2 separate regions of the Homo sapiens genome follow, and region 1 is linked to region 2. The links come from fine-mapping of genetic effects on gene expression. A gene starts in region 2. The other region holds a variant in brackets. All regions are shown on one strand. Distances are from middle to middle. Region 1 overlaps LOC107985694 (a long non-coding RNA gene). Region 2 holds the start of RNF113A (ring finger protein 113A).

Evidence for each region.
Region 1: its variant is fine-mapped to the expression of RNF113A in sigmoid colon (GTEx, PIP 0.92).

Annotation. Positions count from the first base shown.
Region 1 is chrX:119,801,832-119,807,206 of GRCh38, reverse strand. It overlaps LOC107985694 (a long non-coding RNA gene), which reads right to left. Exons shown (of 3, transcript XR_001755949.2): 3 at 1-1,828. It also overlaps a transcript of UPF3B not described here. Among named protein-coding and RNA genes, the nearest start is that of RPL39, 13 kb to the right of the region's middle. The variant C/A (reference allele first, on the strand shown) is at 2,265.
Region 2 is chrX:119,868,546-119,873,920 of GRCh38, reverse strand. It overlaps RNF113A (ring finger protein 113A), which reads left to right and starts at 2,188. Exons shown (of 1, transcript NM_006978.3): 1 at 2,188-3,446. The coding sequence starts at 2,308. The coding sequence ends at 3,339. It overlaps NDUFA1 (NADH:ubiquinone oxidoreductase subunit A1), which reads right to left and starts at 2,089. Exons shown (of 3, transcript NM_004541.4): 1 at 1,908-2,089; 2 at 528-617. The coding sequence starts at 2,009. RefSeq lists an enhancer at 1,766-2,475.

The sequences.
Region 1 (5,375 bases), 67 kb after region 2:
TGTCAGAAAAAGCTGATGGTGAGGACATGCATTGCAATTTGCAGGGAAATGTCAAGTGAGGACTTCATTACGTATGACACGAGAGAAAAGTAAGAGCTGGTTCTAAAATCAAAAGCTGTTGTTCATCCCGAGTTGAATTTTCTTTTTTTTTTTTCTTTTTTTTTTTTTTTTTTTTTTTTAGACAGGGTCTCACCCTGTTGCCCAGCCTGGAGTACAGTGGCTCAATGTCGGTTCACTGCAACCTCCACCTCCTGGGTTCAACTGATTCTCCTGCCTCAGCCTCCCGAGTAGCTGGGATTACAGGTGCCCGCCACCTTGCCTGGCTAATTTTTGTATTTTTAGTAGACATGGGGTTTCACCACGTTGGCCACGCTGGTCTTGAACTCCTGACCTCAGGTGATTCCCCCCGCTTCGGCCTTCCAAAGTGCTGGGATTACAGGTATGAGCCACCGTGCCCGTCCATTCCAATCTAGTTTTATTGCATTGTTGATGATAACTGTTGACTTTGGGAAGTGTAGAAGCAACAAGCATGTCCTTGTAGTATAAGTACAGTGAAGGATAGAACAAACTTTTGTTGGTGCCAAAATTTAAATAGTCATGTTACTTCTGCATCTAATGTCCTAAAGTTTAAGGATTACTTTTAGTTTTTTGTTTGCTTACATGAGCTTAGCATGAAGAATATTTTCAAACATCTGCTTTTATCTTCAGCTTTTTTTATTTTTTATTATACTTTAAGTTTTAGGGTACATGTGCACATTGTGCAGGTTAGTTACATATGTATACATGTGCCATGCTGGTGTGCTGCACCCACTAACTCGTCATCTAGCATTAGGTATATCTCCCAATGCTATCCCTCCCCCCTCCCCCAACCCCACCACAGTCCCCAGAGTGTGATATTCCCCTTCCTGTGTCCATGTGATCTCATTGTTCAATTCCCACCTATGAGTGAGAATATGCGGTGTTTGGTTTTTTGTTCTTGCAATAGTTTACTGAGAATGATGATTTCCAGTTTCATCCATGTCCCTACAAAGGACATGAACTCATCATTTTTTATGGCTGCATAGTATTCCATGGTGTATATGTGCCACATTTTCTTAATCCAGTCTATCATTGTTGGACATTTGGGTTGGTTCCAAGTCTTTGCTATTGTGAATAATGCCGCAGTAAACATACGTGTGCATGTGTCTTTATAGCAGCATGATTTATAGTCCTTTGGGTATATACCCAGTAATGGGATGGCTGGGTCAAATGGTATTTCTAGTTCTAGATCCCTGAGGAATCGCCACACTGACTTCCACAATGGTTGAACTAGTTTACAGTCCCACCAACAGTGTAAAAGTGTTCCTATTTCTCCACATCCTCTCCAGCACCTGTTGTTTCCTGACTTTTTAATGATTGCCATTCTAACTGGTGTGAGATGGTATCTCATTGTGGTTTTGATTTGCATTTCTCTGATGGCCAGGGATGATGAGCATTTTTTCATGTGTTTTTTGGCTGCATAAATGTCTTCTTTTGAGAAGTGTCTGTTCATGTCCTTAGCCCACTTTTTGATGGGGTTGTTTTTTCTTGTAAATTTATTTGAGGTCATTGTAGATTCTGGATATTAGCCCTTCGTCAGATGAGTAGGTTGCGAAAATTTTCTCCCATTTTGTAGGTTGCCTGTTCACCCTGATGGTAGTTTCTTTTGCTGTGCAGAAGCTCTTTAGTTTAATTAGATCCCATTGGTAGTCCTTGTTTGATTCTTGACAATCCAGTGTGTGTTTTATCTTAGGTCTCATGATCTGAGTGTGTACCCTCTCCAGGAAGGAAACTGCATCAATGTCTGTTCCTGTTAAATAGCAACTTTTAGTCTCAGCTTGTTTTGTTTTGATGTCAATAAATAGTAACAACATTCAAGTATGAAGCTAAGTGTGTTTATTAACTTCACTAAATAGCTGTTATATTTGAGAAATTAAATTTTTGATACTGAATTAACCTCTGGAGAATTTCAAAAGTGCATGAATGATATTAGTTTCTGCTTTCACTGGCATGCCTTTGTTTTGTCTACCAGGGAAAAATCAGTTCATGGTTCACTCCTATATTAGGCCTGATGTTTTTTGGCTGTGCCCCCACCCACATCTCATCTTGAATTCCTACATGTTGTGTGAGGGACCCAGTGAGAGGTAATTGAATAATGGGGCAGGTCTTTCCTGTGCTGTTCCCATGATAGTGAAGAAGTCTCACAAGATCTGATGGTTTCATAAAGAGGAGTTCCCCGGCACAAG[C/A]TCTTTTTGTCCTGCTGCCATCCATGTAAGACATGACTTGCTCCTCCTTGCCTTCTGCCATAATTGTGGGGCCTCCCTACCCATGTGGAACTGTGAGTCCATTAAAGCCTCTTTTCCATCCCAGTTTCGGGTATGTCTTTTTTTTTTTTTTTTTTTTTTTTTGAGACAAGGTCTTACTCTGTCACCCAGGCTGGAGTGCAGTGGCGTGATCTCAACTCACTGAAACCTCCACCTCCCAGATTCAAGCAATTCTCCTGCCTCAGCCTCCCTAGTAGCTGAGATTACAGCCATCCGCCACCGTGCCTGGCTAAATTTCGTATTTTTAGTAGAGATGGGAATTCACCATGTTGGCCAGGCTGGTCTTGAACTCCCGACCTCAGGTGATCCACTGCCTCGGCCTCCCAAAGTGCTGGGATTACAGGCATGAGCCACCACTCCTGGCCTCGGGTATGTCTTTATCAGCAGTGTGAAAACGAACTAATACAGGCTGTTCTTACATTATTATAAAGAAATACCTGGCCGGGGCTGGGGGCAGTGGCATATGCCTGTAATCCCAGCATTTTGGGAGGCTGAGGTGGGTGGATCACGAGGTTAGGAGTTTGAGACCAGCCTGGCCAACATGGTGAAACCACATCTCTACTAAAAATACAAAAAATTAGCTGGGCGTGGTGGCACACGCCTGTAGTCCCCAGCTACTCAGAAGGCGGAGGCAGAAGAATCACTTGAACCAGGGAGGTGGAGGTTGCAGTGAGCCGAGATTGTGCCACTGTACTCCAGTCTGGGTGACAGAGTGAGACTCCATCTCAAAAAAAGAAAAAAAAAAAATACCTGGCCAGGTGCAGTGGCTCCCGCCTGTAATCCCAACACTTTGGAAGGCTGAGATGGGCGGATCACTTGAGGTCAGGAGTTTGAGACCAGCCTGGCCAAAATGATGAAACCCCATCTCTACTAAAAATACAAAAATTAGCCAGGCATGGTGGCAGGTGCCTGTAATCCCAGCTGCTCAGGAGGCTGAGGCAGGAGAATCACTTGAACCCAGGAAGGTGGAGGCTGCAATGAGCCGAGATCACACCACTGCACTCCAGCCTGGGCAACAGAATGAGACTCTGCCTCAGAAAAATAAATAAATAAATAAATAAATAAATACCTGAGACTGGATAATTTATAAGAAAAGAGATTTAATTGGCTCCCAGTTCTGCAGGCTGTACAGGAAGTGTGGCACTGGTATCTGCTCGAGTTTTGGGAAAGCCTCAGGGAGCTTTTACTCATGGTGGAAAGTGAAGCAGAAGACATCCCACATCACAGAGTGAGCAAGAGAGTGAGTGCGGGGAGGAGGTGCCACACTTTACAACAACCAGCTCTGTAAAACTCACTATGGAGAGGACAGCACCAAGCCATGAGGGATCTGCCCCATAACCCCAACACCCCACCAGGCCCCACCTACAACACTGGGGATTATATTTCCATGAGATTTGGGTGGGGACAAATATCCAAACCACATCAACTATTCTGGTCCCTTAAGAACAAAATGTTTAGACAACATCCTTGAGCTTTTGCCTGATTTTCATTCATTCTGCCAGCCCTTCCTAACATGGCATCACTTTGCCTTTACTTTCTAAATAACTTTGTTTCCTCAGCTTTTAGAAACAAGTAGCCCAAGAGGGAGGTACAAGAGCCACCAAAAATGATTGAAAGTGAATGACTGTCAGATGGGCGAGAGGATTAAGGGAAGGGAAAATTTCAAGAAGGAGATTGGCTGACATTGTCCCATGCCACAGAGAGATTAAGGAAGACAAGAAATGGAAGTGTTCATTGGATTTGGCAGTCGTGATTTCATTAGTGAACTAATGAAACTGATGACCTAAAAGAGATAGAAACCATGTTATAGTGAGGGGTGAATGGCAGGTGGGAAATGGATGTATGGATTTGGAATTCATCCATTTTTAGGGGTCCATTGAAGTCATGACCATGGATTCTGTCACTTTATGGGGAGAGAGTGAAGTAGGAACAGAAGCAGACCTAGGGCCCAGCCTTAAAGAACTCTTAACATTACACAGAGGTAAGGAAATGTATCTACAAAGACAGAAAGAATAGCCAGAGTAGGAGAAATACCAGAAGACTCCGGTGTTACTTAATCCAAGAGAAAAGTGTTTCAAGGAGGAGGAGTGGCCAGCAAGGTTGGCCACTAAAAATACGGCTGGGCGTGGTGGCTCATGCTTGAAATGCCAGCACTTCGGGAGGCCGAGGCGGGAGGATCACTTGAGGTCAGGACTTCAAGACCAGCTTGGCCAACATGGTGAAACCCCACCCCTACTAAAAATACAAAAATTAGCCGGGCGTGGTAGTGCACATCTGCAATCCAAGCTACTTGGGAGGCTGAGGCAGGAGAATTGCTTGAACCTGAGAGATGGAGGTTGCAGTGAGCCAAGATCGCGCCACTGCACTGCTGCCTGGGTGACAGACTGAGACTCTGTCTCAAAAAAATAAACACCAAAAAAAAAAAAAAAGAAAAAATATTAAAAATACAAAAGTCAGCCAGGCGTGTTGGCACAAGCCTGTGGTCCCAGCTACTCAGGAGGCTGTGTCAGGAGAATTGCTTGAACCCAGGAGGCAGAGGTTGCAGTGAGCCAAGATCACACCAGTGCACTCCAGCCTGGGCAAGAGAGCAAGACTCTGTCAAGAAGAAAGAAAGGAAGGAGGAAAAAAATGGAAAGGAAGGAAGGAAGGAAAAAGAAAGAAAAGAGGAAAGAAAGGGAGGGAGGGAGGAAGGGAAAGAAAGAAAAGGGAGGGAGGGAGGGAGGGAAGAAAGGAAGGAAGGAAAAAAGGAAAGAAGGAAGGAAGGAGAGAAAGGGAGAAAGAGAAAAAGGAGGAGGAAGGAAGGAGAAAGAGAAAGGAAGGAAAGAAAAGAGAAAGAAAAGGGAGGGAGGGAGAAAGGAAGGGAAAGAGAAGAAGGAAGGAAGGAAAAGGAAATAAGGAAAGAAGGAAGGAGAAAGAAAAAAGAAAGAAGGAGGGAGGGAGGGAAAGAGAAGGAGGGAGGGAGGGAAAGAGAAAGAGAGAGAAAGAAAAAGAAAAAGAGAAAGAAAAGGAAGCAAGGAAAAGAGTGAGAGGGAG
Region 2 (5,375 bases):
GAGCCTATGAGTTTGAGGGCCAGCCTGGGCAACACAGCAAGACTGTCTCTATTTTATTTTTTGAAAGTATTTTTATAATCTTAGATAGAAAAGGCCTTTGTACGGGAGACATAAAAACCTAGAATCCAGAACAACAAAACATGATACATTGAATATCAAAATTTAGAACTACCTGATGAAAAACATCATAAAGTAAAAAAGACAAACAGCAGACTGGGAAAAATGTCATATATAAAATAGACAAAAAAATTAAAGTCTAGAATATATAAAGAACCATAGCTCAAAAAGAAAAAGACAATGGAACAGGCAAAGGATATAGGCAACAATCCACAGAATAAGAAATATATGACAGAAGAAAAACTAAAAAAAAAAAAGAAATATAAAAGATTAAATATGTAAAAAGATGCCAACCTCACTAGTAGATAAGAAAATGCTAGTTATATATTAGCACTGTATGACCCTTGGCAAGGCATTACCAGAACCCACCTCAACCCTGGCAAAAGGCTGGCATCAGAGTGGCATCTTACCTTTGACACATAGTAACGATCAACTCCAGAGATGCGCCTATCTCTTTCCATCAGACTCCAGTGATACCCAAAATGAGCAACCCTTTTTTCCTTCAAATAAGAGACAATTATTGTTGCAGTTTATAAAAGTGAGTGACCCAATTGATAGATACTACAATTTTTAAAAGGGACATTCCAGAGAAATGGAATCATCGTTTAAATAAAAATGCAAATTAGTAGTACAAAGAACAGAATCTCCTAAATAAAATCAGACCACTAAACTTTAGGATTAAGTTGGTACCTGTGACTTTTTACACTATTTTAACCAACATGAATTTTTTTTCCTTTTTTTTTAAAAAAAAAAAAAAAGAAATATCTAGTTGTTGTCTTTTGGGACACTAAGAAACAACAGCTGTAGATCACACGTGAAGAACAATAACAAAATCAAAAAGTAAATAAATTTATATCCTGTACTCTTGAGATGATGTGAAGGACTAGGAAGAGGGGAAAATGAATCCTGATGTAAAAAAACAAGATCTCGCAGTAAATTCCTAAAGGCTTGCAAGAGAAAGTGGGGAATAAAAAAGTCAAGGGTGGCCGGTCGCGGCGGCTCACGCCTGTAATCCCAGCACTTTGGGAGATCAAGGCGGGTGGATCAACCGAGGTCAGAAGTTCGAGACCAGCCTCGCCAACATGATGAAACCCCGCCTCTACAAAAAAAAAAAAAAAGCCAGGCGTGGTCCCGGCTACTCGGGAGGCTGAAGCAGGAAAATTTCTTTCTTTATTTATTTTTTTTTGAGACGGAGTTTCGCTCTTGTTGCCCAGGCTGGAGTGCAGTGGCGCGATCTCGGCTCATCGCAACCTCCGCCTCCTGGGTTCAAGTGATTCTCCTGCCTCAGCCTCCCGAGTAGCTGGGATTACAGGCATGCGCCACCACGCCCAGCTAATTTTGTATTTTTAGGAGAGACGGGGTTTCTCCATGTTGGTCAGGCTGGTATCGAACTCCCGACCTCAGGTGATCCGCTCGCCTCGGTCTCCCAAAGTGCTGGGATTACAGGCGTGATCCACCGCGCCCAACCAGGAGAATCTCTTGAACCCAGAAGGCGGAGGTTGCAGTGAGCGATTCTCAGGCTTGAGCCACCTTTTCTAATCTACCTTCCCGGCCCCCGCGTCGCTACTCTGCCCTAAGGCCCACTCTGATACACCCAGAAACGCTGTTTTTCACTAGAGCAGGATGTAGTTTCTATCGGGCTTCGTTTCGCAAGCCTCGGCTTCTAGGCAACCGGAAGCAAGTAGAGGGCCGACCTCGGAGAGAGGGTTCGCAGGCTGACGGTCTCCCTGCCCACCACCCTTTTCGGAAATCAGCCCGTGGAGTCGGCCCCCGGGCCGAAGCCGGCTTACCTTGCCCCCGTTAGTGAACCTGTGGATGTACGCAGTAGCCAGTCCTGGAATCAACAAGCACACGCCCATGACGGAGAGTCCGGGGAGAATCTCGAACCACATCTCTGCCCCGTTACCTAGGCCAAAACCCTACTTCTGGGTCCTTGAAAGGTGACCTGGCTTCGCCTCTCTTCCCAGCAAGCCCCGCGGCCGCCCGCGAGCGGGGCGGTGCCACGTACGGCTCCGGAAGAAGCGACGGAATCTGCTAGGGCACAAGAGAGACGGGCGCTCGGGCTCTCGCAGTCCTCTTCCGTCAGTGTCTTTTGCTTCGACTCCCGGCGGAGCGCGCAACGTGGAGTGACGTGCAGGGGCCAAGTGCAACCCAGGCAGCCACGGCTGTTTCGGAGCTCAGGACTCTAAAATGGCAGAGCAGCTTTCTCCAGGAAAGGCGGTGGATCAGGTGTGCACCTTCCTTTTCAAAAAGCCTGGGCGGAAAGGGGCTGCTGGACGCAGAAAGCGCCCGGCCTGCGACCCAGAGCCCGGAGAAAGCGGCAGCAGTAGCGACGAAGGCTGCACTGTGGTTCGACCGGAAAAGAAGCGGGTGACCCACAATCCAATGATACAGAAGACCCGTGACAGTGGTAAACAGAAGGCGGCTTACGGCGACTTGAGCAGCGAAGAGGAAGAGGAAAATGAGCCCGAGAGTCTCGGCGTGGTTTATAAATCCACCCGTTCGGCGAAACCCGTGGGACCAGAGGATATGGGAGCGACAGCTGTCTATGAGCTGGACACAGAGAAAGAGCGCGATGCACAAGCCATCTTTGAGCGCAGCCAGAAGATCCAGGAGGAGCTGAGGGGCAAGGAGGATGACAAGATCTATCGGGGAATCAACAATTATCAGAAATACATGAAGCCCAAGGATACGTCTATGGGCAATGCCTCTTCCGGGATGGTGAGGAAGGGCCCCATCCGAGCGCCCGAGCATCTACGTGCCACCGTGCGCTGGGATTACCAGCCCGACATCTGTAAGGACTACAAAGAGACTGGCTTCTGCGGCTTCGGAGACAGCTGCAAATTCCTCCATGACCGTTCAGATTACAAGCATGGGTGGCAGATCGAACGTGAGCTTGATGAGGGTCGCTATGGTGTCTATGAGGATGAAAACTATGAAGTGGGAAGCGATGATGAGGAAATACCATTCAAGTGTTTCATCTGTCGCCAGAGCTTCCAAAACCCAGTTGTCACCAAGTGCAGGCATTATTTCTGCGAGAGCTGTGCACTGCAGCATTTCCGCACCACCCCGCGCTGCTATGTCTGTGACCAGCAGACCAATGGCGTCTTCAATCCAGCGAAAGAATTGATTGCTAAACTAGAGAAGCATCGAGCTACAGGAGAGGGTGGTGCTTCCGACTTGCCAGAAGACCCCGATGAGGATGCAATTCCCATTACTTAGGTTTCCCATAATTCTTAAATTTAAAAAATAAACGTTTTGTTCTTTTGGAAGTCTTACTTCGTGTCCTTCCTTTGTAGAGAAAGTGACAGAGCAGGCGGGTGGTGAAGTAGGGTCCTGGATTAAAAGCTTCAAGGTAGGTATAATCAGGATTTTTAGCCCTAGGATAACCATTTTGCCTGTGTTTCTTTTCAGAACACTTTGGCATAAATTATAGGGGTGGGAGTAGTTTGAGAAAAGAGCTATAATTTGCTCGAAGTAACCAAAGCCATGATGAAAGCAAGACCTCTGAGCCTGTTTATTATATCACATTTCTGTATCACTTAATAGTTTACAAAGTACTTTCATGCATTCTTTCTCTTGGGAGCCTGTACTACAAAATATACCCGAGCCAAGGTGTTGGGGAGAGGGGTTGTGTTTGGGGAACTGGTAGCTAGCACCACAGGCTTCACATATGGGAAATGTTCCTTGCTGTCTTGGTTATTTATTTATTTATTTGTTTTTGAGACGGAGTCTCGCTCTCTTGCCCAGGCTAGAGTGCAGTGGCGCGATCTCAGCTCACTGCAACCTCCGCCTCCCCGGTTCAAGCGATTCCCCTGCCTCAGCCTCCCGCGTAGCTGAGACTACAGGCGCATGCCACCACACCCGGCTATTTTTTTTTTTTTTTTTTGTATTTTTAGTAGAGACGGGGTTTCACCATACTAGCCAGGATGGTCTCGATCGCCTGGCCTCGTGATCCACCTGCCTTGGCCTCCCAAAGTGCTGGGATTACAGGTGTGAGCCACCGAGCCCGGCTCCCTTGCTGTCTTGGAAGCAGCTATAGTTAACCCCCACGTCCATGGGTGATAAAAGTATCTGTGCTCAGCTATCCAGTGTGACAGACACTAGCCCCAGGTGGCTATTGAGCACTTGAAATGTGTCTGACCACTGTATTGGACATTACTATTGTAGACAGAACTCGTGAACCTGCAGAGGTCAAAAACAATATTTTATCATCCATTACCTGAAACTATCTGTGTTCTCACAGTCTCTGTAATAGTGCTGATCACACCTTATTAAAATTAGTCAATGTACCTGTCTCTCCAACTGGTTTATGAACTCAGTGACTAGCCTAGTGCTTGGCATATAATAAGCACTTAATAAATAAGCCTAGAGAGGTTTAAAAAGGGAGATTGGGGCCAAAGCCTTGAATCCAAGCTGAGGAGCGTTGACTGTATTCTGTAGGCAGCGGGGGAGATAGCAGAGGTTTGGGAAGAGAACACAATCAGACTTGGGTTTTTTTGTTTGTTTGTTTGTTTTAGTGTTACTGTGGTTGCGGCTATAGGATGGCTCACAAGGGAGATGGAACACGAGGCCGGGAGGCCAGTTAGGCCAAATGATTAGTAAATTTTTATTGATATGGCTAGAATTTGGGCTAATCCCACGAAACAGATGCAAGAATAAATTCTGGGTTAGTGGTTTTTATTCACATTCATTAATCCATTTAAAGATATTCTTTTTTTTTTTTTTTGAGACAGAGTCTTGCTCTGTTGTCTAGGCTGGAGTGCAGTGGCGCGATCTTGGCTCATTGCAACCTCCGCCTCCCAGGTTCAAGCAATTCTCCTGCCTCAGCCTCCCGAGTAGCTGGGACTACAGACGTGCACCACCACACCCAGCTAATTTCTGTATTTTTAGTAGAGACAGGGTTTCACCATATTGGTCAGGCTGGTCTTGAACTTCTGACCTCGTGATCCGCCCGCCTCGGCCTCCCAAAGTGCTGGGATTACATGCATGAGCCACTGCGCCTGGCCTAAAGATATTCTTTGAGTAGCTACTCTAAATCAGGCACTGTGCTTGGCATGGGGGATATTAGCAGTGAACAAGATGGACACAGCCCCTGCCCTCATGGAGCTGGACATTAAATAATGACTGTTTGTTTGTTTTTGAGACAGAGTCTCGCTGTGCCACCCAGGCTGGAATGCAGTGGCATAATCTCAGCTCACTGTAACCTCCACCTCCCAGGTTCAAGCAATTCTCCTGCCTCAGCCTCCTGAGCTGGT